Linked DNA regions of Homo sapiens: region 1 is linked to region 2. Evidence: fine-mapped expression QTL. Tissue or cell type: tibial nerve. Region 2 holds a variant in brackets; the other region holds the start of a gene. All regions are shown on one strand. Distances are between the middles of the regions.

What was found. PIP is the estimated chance that this variant, and not a neighbour inherited with it, causes the effect.
Region 1: TWIST1 starts here. The variant in region 2 is fine-mapped to the expression of TWIST1 in tibial nerve (GTEx, PIP above 0.99).

What each region holds. Positions count from the first base shown.
Region 1 is chr7:19,113,788-19,121,897 of GRCh38, reverse strand. It overlaps TWIST1 (twist family bHLH transcription factor 1), which reads left to right and starts at 4,262. Exons shown (of 2, transcript NM_000474.4): 1 at 4,262-5,227; 2 at 5,767-6,430. The coding sequence starts at 4,577. The coding sequence ends at 5,185. RefSeq lists enhancers at 2,252-3,115, 4,189-4,972, 4,996-5,255.
Region 2 is chr7:19,486,289-19,494,398 of GRCh38, reverse strand. No RefSeq gene overlaps it. Among named protein-coding and RNA genes, the nearest start is that of MIR3146, 220 kb to the left of the region's middle. The variant A/G (reference allele first, on the strand shown) is at 3,803.

The sequences.
Region 1 (8,110 bases), 370 kb after region 2:
ATTTCTTGCATTCTTTCATCAGTTATTCCAGCAACTCTTTGATACAAGTGAAGTGAGTGTGTTTTCCAACAAGGTTAATGGGCAGCTAAGACACCAACTCTCCAGCCTGCACAACCCCTGAAAAAAAAAATGAAAAAAAAAAATGCTCTTCAAGACTCCATACTTTTCCATATTCTGATCCTGCACTTTCTACAGGTTAGACCTATGTCTCCTCATCCCATCCTTAAGCTGAGTTCAGAATGTCAGCTATTTTAAAGATTAACATTTATTTGAAAATTTCACTTGCGGTACTGTTCGCACCCTAATTTATTGTGTTTTTTACTTTTTCGTTTTATTTCTGGATTGAAAACTTCACATTTTATAACTTTAGTTTGTTTTTTTTACTTTTAAAGATATTCAGATAGAAAAATGTAGAATCAGTTGAGTTTATGAATCAAATCATCATTTAAAGAGAAAGAGAATGAGTTTTTATATAGGGAAAGGTGTTCAAACATCATTAAGGCTACCAGGGTCATGAAAGAAGAATAAGCTTTTACACAGTTATTGTGTTGACATACATGACTTTATATTCCACCTTACTAAAATTCTCTCATTTAAACAGCAGTCCCTCTGGAGTGTTCAAAGCAAGATGAAATCTAAGATATACAACCTCATCTGATATTCACTCAATTGCAGCCTTTCTAATTTTCACTCCCTTCCGTGCGAATGCTCCTGTGCACTATTTATGCAATTCAGATAAATTATTTCTCAGAACTCGGAGCCAACAAACAGGTGATAGGCCATCTAAGGTCTGAGGAGAAAGAAGAGTAGGAACAGATTGAGGTACTCACCTTTTATGCAAGCCCAAACTCCAGAATTTACCAGTTGGCTAACCATTCTATAGTGTGTGTTTCTTTTCCGTATCTAAAAGTATTTATAATTGGTTGTTGCTAAGAGAATGTCACAGCATATTCAAACTGCCAGGATACTTAATACTTATTGTATATGTTCAATGTGAGATTTCTAACTCTGTTACTTTTAACAGTATTTTTTGTTTCAATTTTTAACACAGCACACATTCCTCAGGCAGGATTGCAAACATGCCAAGTTTGCAGTTTGAAAACAAAGATCGTTTTGAACTATCCAAGTACAAAAGAAATTTTTTTTTTCAGTTAAATTTTTTTGGGGAGGACTTTACTTTAGAAGGAGGCAAAATGACTGAATTCCAGTTAATCTAGCATTCCCAAAGAAGGTAGTCCCCACTGACATACTTCCAGTTAGGCTAACTTCAGCCTCAAAAGAAAATTTCTAAGATTGTTTTCATGATCTCAAGATTGGGATTTTAGAAAGAAGCTTTCAAATTTAAACTAAACATTGCAGAAGTTGCAATTATTGTTGCATATATAAGAGAATCCAGAATTATACCTGACCTGTCAACAAGTAAAAAGGGAGCCATCCTTGCAAATGTGGAAAAGAAAATTGTTAGGTAAAATGTTAGATAAGAAAGAGCTGTATATGAGCAGACTGGACTCGTCAGCCAGGGCGTGTTGCAGTTTGCAAAGCAGGGAGTATCTAGCTCCAGCCATTTTTTGAGAGGTACCTCCTGGACTACTTTTGCTCCAAAAGTAACATTCAAGCCCCACTTAAGAACTCAAAAGTCGTCTCATCCTCCACTCCCCGGAACAGTTCAAGAGCCATTTCTTCTTAGAACTAGTCATCAATTGTGACTGTGGCTGAAAGAGTCCATGGGCAGGATGGTTCTGGTTAGGTGTTCATTTTGAATTCCCCTCTCAGTATTCTGGCATCAGAGCGTCGCCTGAGCCTTGCGGGGATCCCTGTACCCAATGGCCAGGAGCTCTTCATCAGCTAGAAGTTTAGTGCCGGGAAAAGGGCTGGGCTCACTTGTTTAAGAACCAGTCTTTGAGACTGATGACTTTGCAAGATGGACTGGCTAATGACCCCTGGCTGCTGCGCTGCTGTGGACTTGGTTTCTCCTCTAGCTTGTCCGCTCCCCTCCCCTTCCCAAATTCCCCTTGGTCAGGTAAGATTTCCTTTACACTTTACCCACACTTTCCTGTCTTACTTATCCGTGGCCACAAAGGAAAGAGTCCAATCATTCGATCTCTTTATTTATTTTTGAGAAAAGAGAAAAAAAGAACAAAACAAAAATAAGATTTATCTTTAAAAAAATAGCTGAAGTGGAAAAGGTTTCGAGATTTCTGCAGCCACGTTCTAAATAAGAATTGCAGAATACTGTAAATTCAGATTTACAAAAAGAACACTTGGTGGAGAGTGGGGCAGAATTTCTGCCGCATTCTCTAAGCGCTTCCAAGAGATAAAATCCTGTAGCGGAAGATGCAAACGCAAGGGTGCAGGGGTGACTGTTTTGAGAACTGCTAGAGTGCTACTGAAATTAAGTGGAGGTCAAGTCGAATCTGATTTTCAGACAATTTTACAGTAAGGCAGCGGCTCACTAAACAGGCCAGTTGACAAGCTGTAGTCACTTTCTGAGTATTTCTGTAAAAATGGTAAGGGATCAACTCTGCAATTTGTCCCTCCCATGAAAGCACAGTCTTGTTTACACCTCGCTGGAGAAATAACACTCGCCCTCACTTCTCCCAAAAAGCTGAACCCTTCAGTCGGCCCAAGCAGCTCCACACCCTGAGGTTTCCAAGACCAAAGCTGCGAGTCTCAGCAGGGAACAGCCACGTGGCCTGCCTGCGCCTCGCCTGGGCTCTTGCCTTCAGCTTGAGATATCTGCAGCCGCGAACCTTGCTCCAGCCCAGAAAGGGGCGCTTTGCTCAATTAATTGTTCCCGCCGGCGAGTCCGTACTGAGAAGCCCATGAGCGGACCTTATGTGCAGGGTACTCCAGCGCGGTGCACAAAACTCGTCGCCCCCAAACGCTGCCCCCACCCCAACACTGTGTACTGACTCCAGCTTTTTACTTTGCCATGTAAGGGATGGACCTGAAACGGTTATTTTACCTCAATTCATTTCAAAAAGGAAACAAGTATGGCATTGCAAAAGATGGGCTTCTTATCCAAGGCGACTTCCTTTCTGGTTCACCAACTTTGCTGCTTCCAGTTTGCCAGGATCTACATTAACACCCTCTTTGGGGCTCTTCGTTTTAACTTACAGACAGAAATGCTTAAAATGTTAGCGTATCCAAGCATTTGGAATTGGGGCTCACGAAGCCTAATTGTCCACTGGATGCCCTAGATAGTGGGGGCTGGGGCGGGGGGGGTCTCAGAGCGGGCAGCCCCTATGTCTAGGCGCTATCAAATTCCCACTTCACTCTCTTACAAGCTGGCCTTTCAAGGTCACAATGCGGAGCCTAATTTGGGGGTGGGGATGAAATGGCCACAGGGTCTCTCCCTTGGGTTGGCATTGCCAGCTGTTAGGGCCGCAGCAAAGGCGCTGCGCTGCCCCCCTCTGGCTCTGCTGCCTTTCCCATGGACTGGGTTTCCTTCCACCGAAGAGTGAACTTCTGCCTCTTTCGAGCACCTTCCGAGGCGTAGTCCTTTGGATGTTGGGGAGCGTCAGACTGGGTCGTTGTAGAGGGGAAAGGAGGGCCCAGAAGGGCGAGAGAGCAGGCCGGGACGCAAATCCTCAGCCCCCGCGGCGCGGCCACGTCTTCAGAAACGCCCAGGACCTCCGGGCTGGGCCGCCGCGGTTTGGCCTTTGGAACTCCAAGGGGTTCGTCTACCTGACCATTGGGTGGGCTCCGCGGTTGACACTTTTCTTGGCATGCCCCCCCACCCCGCGCCACACCACCCCCCCAGCCCCAGCAATCCCAAATCGGCCCCACGGACCTAGAGGGCTCTTGGGCGAGATGAGACATCACCCACTGTGTAGAAGCTGTTGCCATTGCTGCTGTCACAGCCACTCCGGATGGGGCTGCCACCGCGGCCAGGACAGTCTCCTCCGACCGCTTCCTGGGCTGCGCTAGGGTTCGGGGGCGCTGCCCGCACGCTCCGGCGGGGAAGGAAATCGCCCCGCGCCCGCCGGAGGAAGGCGACGGGGAGGGAAGGGGGAGGGCGGCTAGGAGGCGGGTGGAGGGGCCGGCCGCCCGGGCCAGGTCGTTTTTGAATGGTTTGGGAGGACGAATTGTTAGACCCCGAGGAAGGGAGGTGGGACGGGGGAGGGGGACTGGAAAGCGGAAACTTTCCTATAAAACTTCGAAAAGTCCCTCCTCCTCACGTCAGGCCAATGACACTGCTGCCCCCAAACTTTCCGCCTGCACGGAGGTATAAGAGCCTCCAAGTCTGCAGCTCTCGCCCAACTCCCAGACACCTCGCGGGCTCTGCAGCACCGGCACCGTTTCCAGGAGGCCTGGCGGGGTGTGCGTCCAGCCGTTGGGCGCTTTCTTTTTGGACCTCGGGGCCATCCACACCGTCCCCTCCCCCTCCCGCCTCCCTCCCCGCCTCCCCCGCGCGCCCTCCCCGCGGAGGTCCCTCCCGTCCGTCCTCCTGCTCTCTCCTCCGCGGGCCGCATCGCCCGGGCCGGCGCCGCGCGCGGGGGAAGCTGGCGGGCTGAGGCGCCCCGCTCTTCTCCTCTGCCCCGGGCCCGCGAGGCCACGCGTCGCCGCTCGAGAGATGATGCAGGACGTGTCCAGCTCGCCAGTCTCGCCGGCCGACGACAGCCTGAGCAACAGCGAGGAAGAGCCAGACCGGCAGCAGCCGCCGAGCGGCAAGCGCGGGGGACGCAAGCGGCGCAGCAGCAGGCGCAGCGCGGGCGGCGGCGCGGGGCCCGGCGGAGCCGCGGGTGGGGGCGTCGGAGGCGGCGACGAGCCGGGCAGCCCGGCCCAGGGCAAGCGCGGCAAGAAGTCTGCGGGCTGTGGCGGCGGCGGCGGCGCGGGCGGCGGCGGCGGCAGCAGCAGCGGCGGCGGGAGTCCGCAGTCTTACGAGGAGCTGCAGACGCAGCGGGTCATGGCCAACGTGCGGGAGCGCCAGCGCACCCAGTCGCTGAACGAGGCGTTCGCCGCGCTGCGGAAGATCATCCCCACGCTGCCCTCGGACAAGCTGAGCAAGATTCAGACCCTCAAGCTGGCGGCCAGGTACATCGACTTCCTCTACCAGGTCCTCCAGAGCGACGAGCTGGACTCCAAGATGGCAAGCTGCAGCTATGTGGCTCACGAGCGGCTCAGCTACGCCTTCTCGGTCTGGAGGATGGAGGGGGCCTGGTCCATGTCCGCGTCCCACTAGCAGGCGGAGCCCCCCACCCCCTCAGCAGGGCCGGAGACCTAGGTAAGGACCGCGCCGCTGCACCCCTTCGCCTCTCAGGTGGCAGACGGCAGGCCGGCCAGGCCGCGGTTCCCAGTCCACCTCGATTTCCTCCCCTCTCCCACTCTCCGCTCAGCCTTCCCACCTCACTTGGCACCGTTGCCTCGCGCCCCCAGCGTCCCCGGAAGGCCGGTCTGACCCCGCTAGGGAGAGCAGTCTCCAGGGGGATGCGCCCTGGTGAGGGGTGTGTGTGCGCGTGAGTGTGCGTGACAGGAGGGGAGACAGAGACACCCAGGGTCACGGGTAAGGACCGTTTTGTCAGCGCCACCCTTTCTTTCGGCTTTCAATTTTTGTTCTCCTTAAAACAAATGTTTTAAAACAAATTCCACCTCCTCCTCCTTTCCACCCACCCACTTCCTCTTGCCCTTGGGCTGAAATCCTTCCAGGTTGTTCAGCTTAATTTCTCAGTGGTGGTGATAAGAACAGTGCTCACTAGTCTTAGAAAACAGCCGCAGAGACCTAAACAATAACCGACTCCCCCCCCCCCCTCTGGGTTTTTGCAGATGTCATTGTTTCCAGAGAAGGAGAAAATGGACAGTCTAGAGACTCTGGAGCTGGATAACTAAAAATAAAAATATATGCCAAAGATTTTCTTGGAAATTAGAAGAGCAAAATCCAAATTCAAAGAAACAGGGCGTGGGGCGCACTTTTAAAAGAGAAAGCGAGACAGGCCCGTGGACAGTGATTCCCAGACGGGCAGCGGCACCATCCTCACACCTCTGCATTCTGATAGAAGTCTGAACAGTTGTTTGTGTTTTTTTTTTTTTTTTTTTTGACGAAGAATGTTTTTATTTTTATTTTTTTCATGCATGCATTCTCAAGAGGTCGTGCCAATCAGCCACTGAAAGGAAAGGCATCACTATGGACTTTCTCTATTTTAAAATGGTAACAATCAGAGGAACTATAAGAACACCTTTAGAAATAAAAATACTGGGATCAAACTGGCCTGCAAAACCATAGTCAGTTAATTCTTTTTTTCATCCTTCCTCTGAGGGGAAAAACAAAAAAAAACTTAAAATACAAAAAACAACATTCTATTTATTTATTGAGGACCCATGGTAAAATGCAAATAGATCCGGTGTCTAAATGCATTCATATTTTTATGATTGTTTTGTAAATATCTTTGTATATTTTTCTGCAATAAATAAATATAAAAAATTTAGAGAACCTTAGAGTTTGGTCTATATTTTTAAAACTAAAGATTAAGTTGGTGGTAAATACCTGCTTGTTTAATTCTAGAGGCACCCAGGAGGGAGGGGGCACTAATATAAACAAAGCAATGAAAAACTCAAATAAAGCAGCTACTGACAGGCACAAGCATGTTATTTTAAAAGACAGCTTTATTATTATTCCAGTTTGGTATTCAGAGGGCTTAGTAGCATCTCTTCATCTCTTACTGTCTCCAAACAGCAAAAACTTAACAAATTTGCTATTCACCTCCTTTTTATTTTGAGGTGATAGTTGTTAAAACAGTTAAATGCAAATAAGGAGTATAAAACCTGCACTATTCTCTTATTATGTACTTTTTGTCATGCTCTTCACTCTTTGTGAAGATTCCTAAATAACAGGTTCTTTTCAGTGAAAACATATATAGTGTTATGAAAATTATCTATACACATATAGAAATGACCAGAAATGCATAGAAAATAAAGTGTAAATCAGCAGAAAAGAGAAAATTCCATTTGTAATTTGCTTAACTCTTCTCTCATGAATGAATATGACGTTTAGTGTCATGTTTGCTAAAAAGAAAAGTTAATATATCGCTATATTGACGCTATTTGGGAAGCATCATTCTTTTTTTATGTGTAAAGAATATAAGGCTGTGGAATAATATACAAAAATGAAGATCCTGAACTTTCAGTATCCTTGGTAACTGGATATAATCACAGTTGGAATAATCACAGTTTTAAATACTACAGCTATGCAGTTACTAGTCAGTTCATTAGCGTTATATTTTATCCAGAATTACACAGAATTTTTCCCTGGTGAGATCATACATACACACACACACAATCTGAAGTTAAGTAAAACAATAATGGGCAAACGGGGGTGTTTGATTTTTTATTTCATTCTGATTATTTGTGGGCCAGGAACATACTGGCTTTTATAATTAACATTATTAGAAATAGTGATTTTGTATCAGTTCTTAGCTTTTACATCCGATTTACTGCATCCAAGTGTAACTGGGGAAGCTTTCAAACTGGAAAATCATTTTGGTGCCTGTTTCAAACAATGACTAATAAGTGTATGTATCCAAACAGATCGTTTTTGCTTAGCTCAGGTCAAAGTTATTTTATTGCCTGAAGGTTTTTGTTTTCTTCTTCACACAGCACCATAGAATGCTGACATAAGAATATTATGAATTTATTGTTAATATTTCAGACTATATTTTACAATAAGGAGTCTGCAGCATTGACTTGTATTAAAAGGTTAGTGAAAGCTTGGAGAAGTATTATTATTTTTTTATTTTGATAGTCCTTTAGCAAATAACAGAAAGGGAAGGCGATTATGTGTTGGTGTATTTGTTGGGGGTGTGTGTGTGTTGTGTGTAAGGCAGGTTAGAAATGTAAGGAGGGTGCCCTAGGAGGATGAGGGAAAGCATTAGGTTGGTAATTCTTTTTTGTATGTATCATCCAACCACCTCCATTTTCTAAATTATTCATGGGGAGTCTCCTTGTTCACTAGCTTGGTCTGACTATTTGATATTTCAGATTTCTTAAGGTACACCAGGATGGAGCTGGCCATGACTGCTGAGAAGGTAATTGTTATCTTAACTCTGGATATAAGAACTAGATGTGTCAAAGAAAGGTAGCTCTCCATTTGCCTTTCTTTTATTTCTTTCTTTTT
Region 2 (8,110 bases):
TGCCAAGAAATGGTGTAACTGCCATTCACAGAGAAACTGATGCAGAAATAAAAATCTTTGCTCAGAGAGGTGAAAGGAGAAAGATGTTTATCATCTCAAAACTACTGTGCTTCAGGGAATGCCATAATCACTCGCACATGCAAGGTATGTGCATGCAAAATAAAAATGGTAAAGTACTAGAAAACGCTGGGTGAAGACGAAGTTCTAGGTATTTCCAGTCGGATAACTGAGAATCTGGAGTTACTTAGTGCCGTTTGAATTCTCTCAGAACAATTGAAAGTTTGAGCTATGTCCAAAATTGACAAATGGAATCTAATTCAACTAAAGAGCTTCTGCACAGCAAAAGAAACTACCATCGGAGTGATCAGGCAGCCCACAGAATGGGAGAAGAATTTTACAATCTACCCATCTGACAAAGGGCTAATATCCAGAATCTACAAAGAACTTAAACAAATTTACAAAAAAAAAAAATCAAACAACCCCATCAAAAAGTGGGCAAAGGATATGAACAGACACTTCTCAAAGGAAGACATTTATGCAGCAACAGACACATGAAAAAATCCTCATCATCACTGGCCAGAGAAATGCAAATCAAAATCACAATGAGATACCATCTCACACCAGTTAGAATGGCGATCATTAAAGAGTCAGGATACAACAGGTGCTGGAGAGGATGTGGAGAAATAGGAACACTTTTACACTGTTGGTGGGACTGTAAACTAGTTCAACCATTGTGGAAGACAGTGTGGCGATTTCCTCAAGGATCTAGAACTAGAAATACCATTTGACCCAGCCATCCCATTACTGGGTATATACCCAAAGGATTATAAATCATGATGCTATGAATACACATACACACGTATGTTTATTGAGGCACTATTCACAATAGGAAAGACTTGGAACCAACCTAAATGTATATCAATGATAGACTGGATTAAGAAAATGTGGCATATATACACCATGGAATACTATGCAGCCACAGAAAAGGATGAGTTCATGTCCTTTGTAGGGACATGGATGAAGCTGGAAACCAGCATTCTCAGCAAACTATCACAAGGACAGAAAACCAAACACCACATGTTCTCAGTCATAGATGGGAACTGAACAATGAGAACACTTGGACAGAGGGTGGGGAACATCACACACTGGGGCCTGTCGTGGGGTGGGGGGAGGGGGGAGGGATAGCATTAGGAGATACAACTAATGTAAATGATGAGTTAATGGCTGCAGCACACCAACATGGCACATGTATACATATGTAACTAACCTGCACGTTGTGCACATGTACCCTAGAACTTAAAGTATACTAAAAAAAATAAGAAAAGAAAGTTTGAGCTATGTACATCCACATCCTCGTCTTAAAAAAAAAAAATAAAGCCTTTGCTACCAAGGCTCTAATTGCTATTATACGCTAAAAATGGTTATGACAAATCTATTCCAAGATAACTCCTTTTATTTTAATAACTTTAAAATTAACTTTCACATCTGCCATAATTTTTTTTATATTTATGAATATCCCATTCTATCAAAATTTTATTTTATTCCACATGCCATGCCTCTCAAGTTTTCTGTTTTCGTTTTGCTTTTTCTATCCAATTCTTAGAAGACCACTTGGCAAAGATAATGAGACATTCATCACCCAGTTGTGTGGAAGATGGTGGCAGGTTTGAGTGAAAGGAGCCTACCCTCATAGAACTTGCCATTTGACTGGGAATTTTCAAGAAGCCTACTGGTTTATCACAGTAAAAACATATTTGGAAATAATTTAGATTTGTGTTGCTCGTATACGTCAGTTTTCTTTTACCACTTACAGGTGAACACACTAAAAGCATAAATATACAAGCACAATTACATGAAGAAATGGAGTGTAGCCCTTGGTAAAACAGCAGCACAAGTTAATTTAAAATAACATTACGTATAAATATTTTCTATTTTTACGTTTACCTTTTTATATAAACTCACACAAAGGACTTCACCTTCTACAGCAAGACTTATGCTTTCCTTTTATGTGATCGAAGCTTAAAACGAAACTATTTTTGGACATTAGCTTTTCCCTAAGTATTTTTAAGGAGTACGAAGAGGAATTTCACTCTAAATGATATAAAACAGCTCCAGTTTCTTACTTTGAAAGCTAATTCCTACCACCAGTAGCTATCGCTCATTATTTGCCTTCTGCAGAAATATTTTCCAGTCAATAATATTTTAAAAAGTAAAAGGTCCAATTCAATAAATTGGAAGTTAAATAGCTCTGCAGAAACCTTATCACTGATATTCAGAATATAGTTTTACTGCTACATAAACAAGCCCATATTTAAGGGAAGTTTCTTCTGCTCAGCAGGATGTGTAATATTTAAGCTCGTGGCTAGAGGGAGCTCTTTTGTATCAGAAGCAATTACCTAAAAGCAAAATCAAATCTATGGAAAAAAAAAAAAAAAAAATCAAACTAATTTTTTTAAAAATTCAAGGCAACAAGTGATGAAAGTACAATGGATACCCGACATTTGATTTAAAGCTTGTATTCTTATCTATGTTTTTCCCTTGTATTAACAGCAACAACAACAAGAACCGATAAAGACAAAACCAAGTCAAGTTTAATACTTCCAAAGGGCAAGAGCCAAGGTCTGATGCAGCAGGTACCTCGAATTTATTTTCTACAAGTTGCCAGTCAGTTTATGCCAACTTAAAGGCTTGCTATCAAAAGCACATGAACTCACTTTAGAAAAAAGGGAAAGTGGAAGGAGATCAGCCCTCTCGTTTAGAAGTACAAGGGTCCGCCTCATGTGGCTAGAGAACACATGGAACATTTGTCAGACCTCTGGCCCTGGCAGCAGGACTTCAAAGCTGTGCTGCCACCTGCCACACTTTGCTTCCTTTCAACTGTTGCGTGGGAAAATGAGAGGCACATGTGAGAGGAACTCTTACAAAAAAGGGATGAGGAGGGAAAAAAGCTTACCCTTTTACCAATCAGTTTGCTTACTTTTGCCTTTTCTGTTTCAGACCACCGGGTGTCTGGAATTAATATATCTAGGGCCAAATCCACTTCAACTCAGCCACAGTTTTGGCAAACTGAGCTTCCACTGTGTGGTTTGGTGTGCCTTTGGCCTCTTCTGTCTGCTGGTCAGGTAGTTCGTTCTCTCTAACCATGAAATTTGTGGGCGAGATTCCTAAGCCTTTTCTTTTACTCTTTCCAAAGCACAGAAATTGGAGCATTAATATTTATTTAAAAATCAGAATTCTTGAGCATTGGAAAAATTTGTGGGGCTTCATGTCCCTACACTGGTGGTAGGTAGCTCAAGGGACTGACTGCTTGGGCTTGGGATATTTGCCAGAGGAGAGTTTCAACTTAATTATAAAAAGCCATCAATACCATCAAGTCCATCCTGGGTATGAACTTTTAACTGCAAGCCTAGAGGTCTTGACCACACACTAGGCCTTCTATAAACCCTGAGGTAGGCTCTGAGGGTGTTGTCTGTACTTTGCAGACTCCAGTGTCCGGGTTAGAAAAACAGGCAGCAGCTTTCTCAGAATGTTACAGTCATTTAAAATATTTACCTCTTTCTAAAGTAAAGGGCAATATTTTTATTATTTTATATGCTGCACATTTCAAATACTAACCAAGACACTAATGTGTAGAAAAAAGTACACTTTACAGCAAAAGGAGAATGACTTTAAAAGAGAACAATAAACTGGCTTCTGATATTTATTTGGGGATCTCAAAGCACCATCAGTAGTAACCTAATGAAGCATCCTGCCATCTTTCACAATGTAGCTTTTGGATCACTGGAATTCACGAAGGTGTTCC[A/G]GGTGGTCTGGGGACAAGCCCAAAATGCAAGTTACTCACACGCAACAACATATTTTTATAAATGTATTTTCCACTGCAAAGCTGATCCTGTGCTGGAAAGCATGAAAATGAGCTTTTTAAAAAAATCTAACCACAATAATGATTACAGAGCCAAGCAATAACACCACAAAATTGTACTGAAGCCTTTGTGATATGAAGGAAAGGAATACACTTGAGTAGGTGGTCCTCAGGGCCTTATGCCCTAAGGGGTCTGGGAAACTGTCCCAGGGCAGTGGAACCAGCAGAATTTTCTCAACGTCTCTTGCAGGTGAATATTTATCTTAGAGAATGGCTCACATTTTCCAAAGTTTGGGGCTTCTTGTTATTCTATTCTTAATATATACTTCTACATGAATTAAACATTGATTATATAATACTCGAAGTTTATCTTTTGAAATCTCTCTAAACTCAGGAGTAAACAGAAGTAAAATGTTTTTAGTTAGGGGAGCCACACACTTATGTAAACATAATCCTTATTCGGGATCACGCATTTATTTATCATGTACACAGTCAAGCTAAATTTGAAGCTGATTTTCAGAGGAAGCCTATGGCACAGTGGTGGTATTTAATAATGGTACCTATTACTATTTAGTGGACATTTTGGAGTGCGGGATGGAAGCTGCAATGTTCTATCATATCAAGGTAAGTTCATGCCAGATTGCTTTTTATTTGGATATATTTTGAGTTAAGTAGAAGCGGGAATGATGGAGAAACCTGTGGGATTTGTACTCTATAGCAAATATAATGCTACTAGCTTTATAGGAATTATCTTATTTACTTCTCACAATAAATCTGTAAGATAGATATTACTGATGGCAGCAATGGCCCATCTGGAGGGGCCACTGTGAAGACTCTGGCTGCAGCAGGGGAGGTGCAGTAGGGACCACATGCTCCACGGAGCTGGCAGGGGCCAGGAACAGGTGGGAGCCCTGTCCTTTTCTGAGTTGGCAGGGCAGGAGCCCCACCCTCCCAGGTGCAGTTGCAGCTGCCCAGCCACAGCTGTGGACCTGGACATTCCTGCACTCTCAAGGGCCTGGGAACACCCTTTGCCCCTGCAGGCTTGAAGGTGTCTGCTCCTGCTGCCTGGCCTCTCTGAACTCCTAGCACCGACTCTGATTTTGGAACAAAGCTGAGGCTGAGCCAGGTACTGTTGTGACCTGGCAGGTGTGCACATTCTTGAGGCAGCACTGACACACCAAACCCCTGCCAACTTGGCCCCCCTCTGGTCTTTAGACATTGATGATCATGGGAGGGAGGCTGAGGGGGACTGAGGGTGCTTGGCACAGGTCTGCAAGCACCCTTTGGCATGAACAGCCTGGGCACTGTGGACAGCAGGTTGATGGCAGCAGGAGGCAGACTGACTCCTAGGTGGAAACGGGTAGATCCCTGGTGAAGCACACCTTCAAGCTAGGGACAGCCTGAAGCATGGGGTCCAGGCTGTCAGTTCTGGGTGGAGTTCCTGGCCCAGAGCAAGAACTTATGGCGCTTTTTCTAGGCCCAATGATGGCCGTCCATGGACCAATCAGCATGCACATCTCCCTTCTGAAGTCCATAAAAACCCCGGACTCAGCTAGACCCACAGAGACATCAAGATGACCTGCCTGTGGATAGGAGCTACCTGCTCTGGGTTTCCTCTCCCCTAAGGACTGCGGAGATGTTGGAATGACCTGCCTGCAGATAGGAGCTACCCACTCTGGGTCTCCTGTCCACTACTGAGAGCTGCAGAGATGTTGCATGACCTGCCTGCAAATATGAGTTACCTGCTCTGGGTCTCCTCTCTGCTGAGAGCAGCAGAGACGTTGCGATGACCTGCCTGCGGATAGGAGCTACCCATTTTGGGTCTCCTGAGAGCTGTTCTGTCACTCAGTCAAGCACCTCTTCACCTTGATCACCCTCTGGTTGTCAGCATACCTCATTCTTCCTGGATGCAGGAAAGGAACTCGGCACCTGCTGAATGGTGAGACTGAAAAAGCTGTAACACAAGCAGGGCTGAAACACTGCCCTCCCCCGCTCACCATGTTGTGGGCAACAAGGAGAGAAGAGCTGAGGCCATTCTGGGAGCCCAGACCTAGGGGCTCCCTGAGCCAGGGCTGTAAGACCCTCTTTGGGGCTCTGTGGTTTCTGGTGTCTCCAAGCTTCCAGGCACCACTATGTTCCTCTCATCCAGAGACAGGTGCCTACAGCAGAAGCCACCCACAATGCATCTGATCCAGCTGAAGACTTTCATGGAGCCAGCACCTGTGGTGGTGCCTGTAGCTGCCCACCCCACCACAGCAGCCAGTGTGGCACACTGCATAGACCCCACACTCACTTGCTCACATGCCCCTTGCCTCTCTGCACCTGGCTTGCCCTTGGCAGTCATGGGATCCAGGCCAGTAGCATGAGGTGAGTGCAGTCTGCCAGGCTGAGTGGGTGGAATGAGCCCAGCAGGCCCAAATAAAAATGGGCAAAGGTGCCATGGGCCACCGAGGCTTCCAACTAGAAATGCGACACCCCAAGAGTTTCAGGACATTATTACCTAGGTTTTCAATAGACATGAAAACAAAAGCTCAGAGAAATTAAGTGATTAGTCTAAAGTCACATGTCAATAGAGGTAAGGTGCAAACTGCAACTCCCATGATAATATATCAAGGGTATTTCCATTACATCTTTTTAATCTGCCATCCTAAGCTTCCTCACAGGTTGGCTTCATTCTTGCCTGTTGCTGTCACTTATCTAAATGGTAGAGACTACCCCTTATCCACCAATAGTGCATAGAATTTAACAGTTGGCTTCATTTTTGCCTTCCACACCCACACTTCTGGGAATTTTACTACATTCTGGGAATGTACTTTTCAAGGTAAGTGAAAGCCTGATCTGGAAGAAATATTTTTACTTGGTTAAGAATAATCTGTGTATTTAGAGATTAAAGGTCAAATTCTCATTTGGAGTTTTTCAAGAACTTTGGGAGTATGTTGGGAGAGACAGTATTTTATGAGTCTCTTGCTTCCTGCAAGTCTTACTAACTTAACTGTGTCAAGAAGGTGAGGCCCTGACTGTTCTTTACACTAGTAATTCCTGAGGATTTTGTTTATGCAGTTGGTAACGCTGAGAGATAAAATATCTTTCTACTAAACAAATAGCAGGCTTTCTTACTGCTTGCTATAAAAGTAGTAGATTCTCCAAGGTTAGAATTTCTCTACTGGGATGCCAAACTGCTGCATGTGAGCATTCATCTGGACCATGCTTTATCATGGGACGTACAAATAAAAAAAAACTTTGGTAGGCAGAATTATAACTCCAAGAAGATTCCATACCTAATCCCTGAGAGAGTGAGTATAATGAGATACCATGCTTCTGAATACATTGCCTTACACAACACAAGGCATTTGCAGAGGTAATTAAGGTTACCAAATAGTTGACCTTAAAATAGAGGAATTATGCTGGATTATCAGTTTAAGCATAACATAACATGTTCATATCAGGCCTTATAAGAACAGGCCAAAGAGAAAGTCAAGGAAGTACAGGAGGAGAGGAAGTCAAAGAGATTCAGAGAAAAAGTATTTGATGTGCCATTGATCTTGAAAATGGAAGATCCCACAGGCCCGTGAATACAGGTGACCTCACAAAACTGAAAATAAGCCCTGCCCAACAGCAGCCAACAATCAAGGTCCTTAGTCCAACAACCACGTTATTTGAATTTAATTCTGCCAACAAATTTTTGAATGTGCTGCAAAATGTATTCTTTCCTGGAGCTTGCAGAAAAGACCCCAAGCCCACTGACACCTTGATTTTGACCTTGTAAGACTTTAAACAGATTATCAGCCAAGCCTCTGGACTTCTGATCTACAGAACTGAGAGATAATAATTGAGTGTTGTTTTAAGCTGCTAAATCTGTGGTAGCTTGTTACATTAGTACAAGACAACTAATACAGAAACCAATGCATATCTACTAATGCCCAAGTTGCTTGATAAGTTGTGAGTAACACATTCTTTGTCATTGACCCAGAAGTTCTGTGTCCTCTGCAAGCATCCATCAAACAGTAACAGGCCAACTAATTAGCTAACAACTAGAGGAAAATAAAATTGCAGACTCATCAGTGTCCAGAATTAGTAGATATTAGTGATAATGCCCCGTTGCGCTAATAGAGGCTGTATGGCAGAATGAAAAAAATATTAGAGGGGAGAAGACCCGGGATTTAATCCAGGTTCTAACACTTAATAGCTATATGATCTTAGACAACTTAATTGACCTTACTGAACTTCCATTTTTAAAAATTTAATATATAT